2 separate regions of the Homo sapiens genome follow, and region 1 is linked to region 2. The links come from fine-mapping of genetic effects on gene expression. A gene starts in region 2. The other region holds a variant in brackets. All regions are shown on one strand. Distances are from middle to middle.

Region 1 (5,000 bases), 240 kb after region 2:
CAACAGAGCAAGACTCCATCTCAAAAAAAAAAAAAAAAAAAAAGTATATAGAAGAAATGGTTGGGCATGATGATTCACGTAATCCCAGCACTTTGGGAGGCCGAGGTGGTAGGATCACTTGAGCCCAGGAGTTCCAGACCAGCCTGGGCAACATAAAGAGACCCTGTCTCTACAAAAAATTTAAAAATTAGCCATGTGTGGTGGCATGCAGCTGTGAACCCAGCTACTGGGGAGGATGAGGTGGAAGAACTGCTTGAGCTCAGGAAGTTGAGGCTGCAGTGAACTATGACTGCACCACTGCACCCCAGCTTGAGCAACAAAGCGAGACTCTGCCTCAAAAAAAATAAATAAACAAATGAATAAAAAGGAAGAAGAAAAAATAAAAGCAGGGGACCAACAGAACTTTTGACACCAGGAAACAGGTGCTATGTCCTCACCAAAGAAGTTTCCTCACATCTGCAGGATCACCATTTAATGTAAATAAAGTTAGAAGTGTTACATTTGTCAGCTCCATACCTGGTGCTGATCATTTAAATCAATGTTCTGTTATAAACTAGACAGAAATAAGGCAAGTGAATAATTTATGTCAATTTCTCTAATAAAAACTAAATTTTGAAAAGCCAATCTTACAGTGAGTTATCTTGGATATAAAAGATAACTTGCTGCAGGTGTTACATGTTGAAAGGAGAATATTTAAGTAATATTCCTGACCAAGAACCCTTTCCCTATTTCCCCACAAAAAGCAATGAGATGAATTTAAGTCACAGGAGCAAAAATGTATCAAATTTACCTGAGTTGTGGGGTCCTTGGACATATGTTTTTTCAAAATTTTTGAAGCCTTTTCAAATTCTTTGTTTTTGATACAAATAATGACAGCCTAAAAAGGAGGGGAAAAATCTTTTTTTACTTTTGTAATGACAGGTGTAATCAGAATATCAAACATCAAAATAACTCTCTCTCACATCATATCAAATTTCTGTACTTAAAAACTAACAATTATAAAGCCAGGCGCGGTGGCTCACGCCTGTAATCCCAGCACTTTGGGAGGCCAAGGCGGGTGGATCACCTGACGTCGGGAGTTCGAGACCAGCCTGACCAACATGGAGAAACCCCATCTCTACTAAAAATACAAAATTAGCCAGGCATGGTGGTGCATGCCTGTAATCCCAGCTACTCGGGAGGCTGAGGCAGGAGAATTGCTTGAACCTGGGACGCAGAGGTTGCAGTAAGCCGAGATCGCGCCACTGCACTCCAGCCTGGGCAACAAGAGCCAAAACTCCATCTCAAAAAAAACAAACAAACAATTATTGTTCAAGTGTTATGAACCACTGGAAGCTGTCTCTTTCTGCTTGTAAGGTAGTCACTTTTCAACAATACAATGGCTTTTGTTACATGGCTGATAGAGCAAAATCTGATCACCTGGATTACAGACCATTTAACCAATTTCAATAGGGCCTCCTGAGGAAAGACAGAATGGACAGGAGTCATTCTACGTCCTGTAATTTCAGGTCCCCAGAACAATTGATTCTGTTCTTTTTGGATGCAAAAGCTTTAAAGCAAGAGGGGGATGAGGGAGGGAGGATATACTGTAGGCGGAAAGAAAGAGATGTGCTGACCACAGAGTTCTGCTAGTTCCATTCTGGAAAGGCCTAAGGCCAGTTCTGTAGGAGAATGAAGGGACAACCCCTTACTACCATAAACCCCAGCTGGCAACTTCAATTAAAGCACCTAGGGAACTACTGAAGCCAACAAACCCAGGTCATTCACAAGCAGCAAATAAAAAGGGCAAAGTTCCAGGTAAGATAAGGTCTCACCAGCCACAGAGAGAAAGTAGAGTCCTTCCATAAAGAAACCTCAAGAGAATGAGGTTCTCTTGAGGAAAAATAACAGTGACTGAACATTTACAAGGAAGTTATAATATATATGAACATTTTTAAAAATTAGAAAAGCCAACAAAAAATTGGGAGTATTTGAAGTTATATGATAGAATAAAGTAGCTATCTCAAATCCTGTCTGAGAGACACAGATTCTTTAAAAAGACCACCATACAAAAAAAGGCAAGCCGACTGGGTGTGGCAGCTTACAACTGTACAACTGTATTCCCACACTTTGAGAGGCCAAGGTGGGAGGATCGCTTGAGCTCAGGAGTTTGAGACCAGCCTGGGGAACATAGGGAGACCCTGTCTCTCCCCCAAAAAAACCCACCTACCCAGGCATGTTGGTGTGTGCCTGTGGTCCCAGCTACTCGGGAGGTTGAGGTAGGAGGATCACTTGGGTCTGGGAGATCGGGGCTGCAGTGAGCAGTGACTGTACCACTGCACTCCAGCTTGGGCGAAAGAGCGATACCCCGTCTCAAAACAAACAATAAAAGGAAAATTGGTTCACAGATATTTTTGATCTTCACAGGGAAGAATGTACAGAGACACAGACTAAGGGGAAGAATAGCAAGGAAATTCATTAAGTACTAATCTGTTGCTTCTATCCTCAACGTGTTAAGCACAGCCATACAGGGCGGAAGGCAACTGATGTCAAA[C/T]GCCCTTGAATATGCAGGCACAGTTCTTGCTGCACAGGGAAGGTACAAAGTAAGTCTTCATTTTACTCAGATGACCATATCCATTTATACATCACTTTCAGCAGAAAAACATATGCTCAAACTATACTTACTTTCTTGAATACAAAGTTTTTACTTTTTTAATCATACAGGTCTTACTGTTTTAAAATTCTATTTAACTTGCATACAACAAAATTAACTTGTTTAGGACATCTGGTTTGGAATTTTAACACACGTAGACTCCTGTATCATCCACTACAATGAGGATCCAAAACCCTGCCTTGGCTGTCCTGTGTAGTCACACCTAACCCTGGCAACCACTGATCCCGGTGGCTCATAACTGTAATCCCAGTGCTTTGGGAAACTGAGACAGGAGGATCACTTGAGGCCAGGAATTTGAAACCAGCCTGGGCAACACAGTGAAAACCCATCTCTACAAAAAAGTAGCCAGGCATGGTGGCGTGTGCCTGTGGTCCTAGCTACTCGGGAGGCAGAGGTAGGAGGATCACCCGAGCCCAGGAATTTGAGGGCAGCAGTGAGCTATGATCATGCCACTGCACTCCAGCCTGGGCAGTAAAGCGAGACCCTCTCTCTCTTTAAAAAAAAAAAAAAAAAAAAAAAAAAAAAAAAAAAAAAAAAAAAAAAAAAAAAAAAAGGGCCAGGCGCAGTGGCTCGCGCCTGTAATCCCAGCACTTTGGGAGGCTGAGGTGGGCAGATCATGAGGTCAGGAGTTCAAGACCAGCCTGGTCAGCATGTGAAACCCTGTCTCTACTTAAAATACAAAAATTAGACGGGCATGGTAGTGCGCACCTGTAGTCTCAGGTGCTTGGGAGGCTAAGGCAGGAGAATTGCTTGAACCTGACAGGCAGAGGTTGCAGTGAGCCGAGATTGCGCCACTGCACTCCAGCCTGGGCAACAGAGTGAGACTCCGTCTCAAAAAACAAGAACAAAAAAGCCGTAAGTGTGTAGGACTTTTTTTTTAAAGGATGTAGCCTTGAGCTTGGCTCCTTTCACTCTGTATAAGGCCTTTAAGGTCCATCCATGTTGGTACACTATCAATAGTTCACTTTTTCTTGTTGTTGGGCAGTATTCCATTCCATGCATGTACTATAGTTTATACATTCATCCACTGAAGGACATTTGAGATGTCTGCAATTTATGGTTATTATAAATAGAGATGCTAAAACAGTCTCATTTACTCTAAGGTAAAACTTCTCATTTCTCTAAGGTAAATACCCAAGAATAGGATTGCATGGTCTCATGGAAAATGTGTTTATAAGAAATGGCCAAACTACTTTCTGGAGTAGCTGTATCATCCCGCATTCCCATCAGCAATATATGAGAGTTCCAGTTGCTCCACATCCTCACTAGTGCTTTTTAAAAAATAGGCTAGGTGTGGTGGCTCACGCCTGTAATCTCAGCACTTCAGAAGGCCAAGGTAGGAGGATCACTTGATCCCAGGAGTTCAAGTCCAGCATGGGCAACAGTGAGATCCCATCTCTATTTAAAAAACAGATGAAAATTGCACATACTTATGTACAACATGATGTTTTGAAATATGTAACTAACACTTTTTATAGTTAGGGTTTTTTTTTAATTAATTTTTCTTGAGATAGGGTCTATATCACCCAGGCTGAACTCAAACTCTTGGCCTCAAGCAATCCTCCTACTTCAGGTGCCCAAGTAGCAGGATTATAGGCATGTGACACCATGCCCCACTATCAGTATTTTTTAAAGTTTGGTCCATTCTAATTGGTATTTGAATCTACTGTGGTTTTAATTTGTATTTCCTTAATGAGTAAATGATGTTGAACATCTTTTCATGTAATTTTTTTTTACCATCTACATTATTTTGGGTGAGCTTTTTGCCCATTTAAAACTAGGGTTGTATAGACTTGTTTCTTTTGAGAGCTCTTCATATACTCTAGATACCAGTTCTTTGTCAGGTGTGATTTGTAAATATTTTCTCCCAACCTGTCGATTGCTTTTCCATTCTCTTAACAGTGTTTTTCTCAGAGCAAAAGTTTAAAATTTTGATTAAGTCCTATTCATCAATTTTTCTTCTTATGGATGTTTTTAAATTATTATCTAAGATTTTTTTGCCTAACTCCAGGACATAAAGATTCCTTCATGTTTCCTCTAAGTTTTATGGTTTCACATTTTACATTTAGATTATAATTTTGAGTTAATTTTTGTACAAGATGTGAGCTTATGGTCAAAGTTCATTTCTGCATATGGACATTCAATTGTTTCAATACCATTTGTTGAAAAGACCATCCTTTTCCCATTGAATAGCCTTCACATCTTTGTCAAAAATCAATCAGTCATATTTGTGTGGGTCTGTTTTTAGATGCTCTCTTCTGTTCTACTAATCTCTATAGTCGTAATTACTGTAACTTTCTCATAATTCTTAAAATTGGGTAGTATGAATCCAAATTTTTCTTTCAAT
Region 2 (5,476 bases):
CAAGTATTCATTTTAATCTTCCACAGAATTTAATTCTTACCCTCTGGTCTCTGAATTGTTAAATATTAAATTGTTAAAAGATTACTGTCTTACAGAGAACAGAACAGCCTGAGCAATGATCCTCATAATCCTTCAAAATAAAATGTGGCAGAAGAAAGTGTGATATGTATCCAATTAAACCGAACATATGGCTTATAGCAAAAAAGAGGCTTTGACTCAACGGTTTAACCTCAATACAAATAACTAAATTTTAATAAAGCTAAACAACGTTTTAGAAATTTTGTTTTTTTTTCAAACAGGAAACCAAGCCTTTAAATTCTCAACCCTTAAACATTCTTTTCTAAACTGGGGTGAAATCAATTATTTCAGAGTGTAAATATTCACAATTTTCTATTTTTTGCTAGGCCAACAGTTGGCATTTATTGAGCTTTTGTTTTTTGATCCCAGGGTGGATACTTTGTTTACGAATATAGTGAAGCACTCACTTGTCATACAGACCTGGATTCTGTGATTTTGCCACCTATCCCATATGTGACAGTGGGTAGTTTAACCTCACGTGTTTTCCTAACAATACACTGGGCATAAACACCTATTTTGAAAGGCTGTTGCAAGAACGAGTAATGAATGTAAAGCTTTTAGCACATTGTCTGACACATGGTAAGCCTTCAGGGTCAAGCTATCGATTTCCCAGAGAAAGGTGGCATTTTCTTAGTATTCATCAAATAGAATGTCTTAATACTACACTGTGTTAGCATATTAATGTTTATAACGGACTAAAGCATTCTACGAAAGCAGCAGGTCATCAGAATAAAATCAAGTTTTCATAACAGTAGAATTCAAACATGGCAGTTGTGGTTCACCAAACTGCTTCAGGGATTAAGTTCTGGAAGGTAATTTCTCTAAATATGATGACTATGTCTCTATGTGCCTTTCTACCAAGTGAACAACTCAGAACGTTTTACATACAACCGAATACAGATTATTTTTATTTGTAGTGTTATCGTGGTTTTGTAACTGAAGGGGACAGGTCTATACTTTTGAAGGGGATCTTGTCTCTTGAAAGGCTTATGTTACTAAGTCTAAAATCCTGTTTCCAAATGAGAATCTTGCTCCCCTCCAAAAAGGGGCTTATGGAGGGTTGGTGGAATTGAATGCTTCCAAACTTTACATTAGTGAAGTGTGTTCAAAAACGTGTGTGGATGCTATGCATACACGTGATACTTCCCATCACATTTTAGGATTCCCACGTTGGAGGGAATCAATTACTGGTATTTGTAGCAATGGGTGGAAAAGATGGCTTCAGTCGATCTGAGTTACTGCAGTTTTCTCCATCTTCTGCTACTCTGCAGCCCCATCTTAGCCTGTCCTCCTCTTAATGGTACGGCCCCCTGTACTCCCCCAAACCCTTTCCTTTCTAGCCCGGCGTAGAGTCTCCCTCTGTGCTCTTCCTCCCACCCACCCCCATCTTCTCCACCCACTCCCTCTCGGCCCCCTCCCACCCTTTCTGCTAGAGCTACAAACACTTCCTATTTCTAGTCCCACCCACTTTCTGGGACTTCTCAATCCGCTTCCCCCCTCTTCTCCACCCCCCTCCAAATTACAAGCTGTTTTAACCCCTTTTCCTGCCTCCCAGGGAAACTATTCTTTAAACCGCCTTCCTCCACACCACCCACTGGAGTGGTCTTCCAAACCGTTCACCCTCTTCCCAAAGATTACTCTTTAAACGTCCTTTCTCTACCACCCTCGTTCTCCAAATTGTTCCCGGTTCTCAAGTACTCCACTCCTCCAGGACCCCACCCCACTCGTCTCTCGGCTTCCCTCCCACAAAAGAACCTGGAATGACTCTCCAACCACCCTTCCAATTACCTCTCCCAGAAGCCTCCCCCCTCCACGATTACAAATGTTACCTGGAACAAAACCTCACGGTCCTAACCCCCACCCCGAACTCCCCTTTCTGCTCTTCCCGCTACTTCCTAGGTTCCAGTTCTACTCCGCTCCCGCAAGCATAGCGGGCTGGGCTCCCTCCCAACCCCGGGAAGAGCCCCTTCCCGCACGTACCTCGAGATTCCGGCCCTCGCCGCCCCCTTCTCCGTCCTCCGCCCGCGCTCGGCCACCCTTTCCGCCCTTCTCCCGCTCCGCCCCGCTCGCTCCCTTCCTTCCCTCCGCCTTCCGTCTCCACACCGCTCCCTTCCCCCACACTCCTGGCCCTCCCACCCCGGAGGCCCCTCCGGGCTTGCCCCCACCTCCGCGCCGCCCTCCCGCCGCCCTCCCCCTTCCCGGCCACCCCTCCCCCGCCCGCGCTCCCCGCCCCTCGGCTCGCCATTCTTCTCTCCGAGCCGCGCGCCCCGCCCGGCCCCGGCTCCCTAGCTTCCCGCTCCCTCGCGCCCTCGCCCCCAATCCCGGCTCGGCCCTCGCTCCCCGCAGCCTCCCGTGCCCCCCGCCCGCGGCCTGACCTGCAATGGCGGCCGCCGAGCGCGGCGCCGCGCGGCCAACGGGCGACAACCGAACCTCCCGCCGCCGTCGCCGCCGCCGCGAGCACTGCCTGCGCACTTCCGACTATGCGCCAGGAGCACTTCCGGGGCAGAGCCTGAGAGCGCGCGCGCACGTGGGGCCGGGGCGGAGAGAGGCGAGCACCGGGAAGGGGAGCGTGGGGCCGCTGGTGAGTTGGGGAAGGGGCGTGGGAAGCGGCTGCGAGAGCTGGGGGGGTCTTACAAGGTGGCCGGCCCAGGGTCGGCGTCCGGCTGAGCTCCTTGTCCCGAGGGTCTCCTTGTCCCGAGGCGGGGTGGGGGCTACTCTGTAGACTCGGGGAGAGGGAAGGGGAGGCGAAGACCGCGCGCGCCTCAGACGCCCCGGCCCGACCGAACGCGCTTGCTCTGTCTGCGGGTTCCTAACCTTGAAGCTAGGCCAGTGAGGGGCGAACAAGACCTGGTCTCTACTCTCGGCCAGTATATATGTTGGCGGGCGTCGGGGGGACGGGGTAGGGTAAGTGACAGACGTCAGACCAGGCAGCCAGATTAAGTCAAACCCTGTCGTTTCTTCCTCAAGAGGAGCTCGGTTCTGCCTGCCCCATCAGCCTCACTGTCACTACCTCAGTTTAGGTCTGTTGTTTGCAAACTTAGCAATAGAGTTGAGGAGAGATGCTTGCTAAAATGCGGATTCCTAGGCGCCCCGAGATAGGAACTCTGGAGCTATGGAGTAGGACCCTTTTTGATTTTTTGCTGAAGCCTCCTTATTATTCAAGCCATTCTGAGCTTTTGAAGATTGAGTAATTCTTGTGGGGGGCATTGTTAGCAGCCATTTGGAAATGAACTTCAGGGAGATGTTGTTGGAGCCTTCCAGCCAGAACAGTGATATTAAGGAACTGAATACTATATGTGACATACTGCAGTTAACATATAGCAATAATGACTCTCTTTTCGCCCCCTAGGAATGGGTGAATTTAAGGTCCATCGAGTACGTTTCTTTAATTATGTTCCATCAGGAATCCGCTGTGTGGCTTACAATAACCAGTCAAACAGATTGGCTGTTTCACGAACAGATGGCACTGTGGAAATTTATAACTTGTCAGCAAACTACTTTCAGGAGAAAGTAAGTCATTTGGGAGTCTGATATGGTGTTTTGATGTTAATTTCTTCTGAAGTTCAAGAAGCTTGTATGTCTTTTATAATCAAACTGATTGAGTGACTTCCTAGCCCCTCTGAAGTTGCTTAGAACTACCAAACTTCTGAGATCTCCTAACTGATAAGAGAAGCTCAGTTTCAATCTGTGTAATGTTGATTAGAAGGGTCCTACCTAGAAATGTGACATCTCACTGCCTGTCATTGGAAACTGAGGTTTGCTGGATCTTTTGGACACAGGAAGGGAAATTGTTGGTATATCAGTCTCAACACCATTGCAGCTTTGGTAAGCAAAATTTCCTGCAGGGAGTATCAGTACTGTTTCATTGTCAATTCAGAAAAAATGATAACACGTTTTAATATCAGAAACTTTTTGGTGATGTGGGAAGATGGATTCCAAAGTTCATCTGTCTGAGAGAATGTAGACCTACATGTCTACATTTGGGAGTAAAGGAGATTTAAAATTAGGTAAAATGTCCTTTGGGTGTATGCAGAGGTCTATTAGTCCTTTTTCTTCTCCCCTCCAAGGGCACTGACTAGTGATTTTCTTCGGGTGCAACATCTTAGTTCATGTTGAATGACTGTTATGTACTGGGTGCTGTGATATAAATGAGTAGATGGGCAAATGAGTGAATTCAGTGCCCAGCAGCCTGGTACCTGGAATTTAGGCATTCTGTAAATGTTTCTCGGTGAATGAGTGGCAAATACTGGGCACTAAGACAAATGTCAGAGGCCCTAACTTTACGGAGCTCAAAGACCAGTGGGAGAAAGATAAGTGTACAGTTTCCAACCTGTAAAATAAATATGATAAACCGAAACACAGGCATAGAACCTTCATTGAATTGCCTTCAGGGAAGGCAATTCAGAGAATTGCCTTCCCTGAGAGGTGGGTTTAGGAAATGTGGAAAGGGATGATTTACTGAGCTCACCCCTGAAGAACTAATCAAAAGGTAAAAACTACAGGACCACCACAAATGGGTTACATTCTGTGGTATGAAGAACATGCGCTGGCGTGTGCTTATTGCATCCTGTGATTTTCTTTTTTTTTCTTTTTCTTTTTTTTTTTTTTTTTGGAGACGGAGTCTTGCTCTGTCACCCAGGCTGGAGTGCAGTGGCGTGATCTTGGCTCACTGCAACCTCTGCCTCCCTCTCCTGCCTCAGCCTTCCAAGTCGCTGGGATTACAGGTGTGCCACCATGCCTCGCTAATTTTTTTATTTTCATAGAGACGAGGTTTCACCATGTTGGCCAGCCTGGTCTCGAACTCCTGACCTCAAGTGATCTGCCCACCTCAGCCTCCCAAAGTGCTGGGATTACAGGTGTGAGCCCTCATACCAGACTGATTATCTTTTTCTTGGTCTTGTTCTTCTTCTTTTTTTTTTTTTTTAACAGTCATGGCCATATTATGATTTTTCTGTTTGTCATTTGTAACAGTTATAACTATATAATTTGTGTGTTTGTTTAATGTCTTTCTTCCATGCTGAACTTCCAATTTTATGAGGATAGGAACCATGTCAGTGATACTCACATCTGCATTCCCACCATTTATCAAGCGCCTCCTACAAAGCCACTGCTTAATGTTTCTTGAATGGATAAGTCAACCATTCCTTACCTAGTGTTCCTTATTTTCTTTTCTCCTTCATCTGTTTTCTTTATTCTTCAACAATTAATTAACTCAGGCTGGTTTCCTGCTTTCCCTATATTCCCTTTCCTACTAGATACGATTGCTTAGCTCTGTCAGTGACTCTCAGAGCAAGAAAAAATTAGTACGTTAAAGTGAAAAGAGGCAGGGCAGAGTGGCTCACACCTGTAAACCCAGCGCTTTGGGAAGCCAGGGCAGGTGGATCACTTGAGCCCAGGA

The links. PIP is the estimated chance that this variant, and not a neighbour inherited with it, causes the effect. A credible set is the group of variants that fine-mapping cannot tell apart.
Region 1: its variant is the best candidate, but not a certain one, in a credible set for the expression of UTP4 in fibroblasts (GTEx, PIP 0.51).

Annotation. Positions count from the first base shown.
Region 1 is chr16:69,371,479-69,376,478 of GRCh38, forward strand. It overlaps TERF2 (telomeric repeat binding factor 2), which reads right to left. Exons shown (of 10, transcript NM_005652.5): 4 at 791-877. Among named protein-coding and RNA genes, the nearest start is that of TERF2, 12 kb to the right of the region's middle. RefSeq lists an enhancer at 48-547. The variant C/T (reference allele first, on the strand shown) is at 2,534.
Region 2 is chr16:69,130,031-69,135,506 of GRCh38, forward strand. It overlaps UTP4 (UTP4 small subunit processome component), which reads left to right and starts at 2,619. Exons shown (of 17, transcript NM_032830.3): 1 at 2,619-2,659; 2 at 3,428-3,588. The coding sequence starts at 3,430. DERPC (DERPC proline and glycine rich nuclear protein) reads right to left here and starts at 2,558. Exons shown (of 3, transcript NM_001002847.4): 1 at 2,454-2,558. It overlaps CHTF8 (chromosome transmission fidelity factor 8), which reads right to left and starts at 2,558. Exons shown (of 4, transcript NM_001039690.5): 1 at 2,454-2,558. RefSeq lists silencers at 2,138-2,287, 2,308-2,667.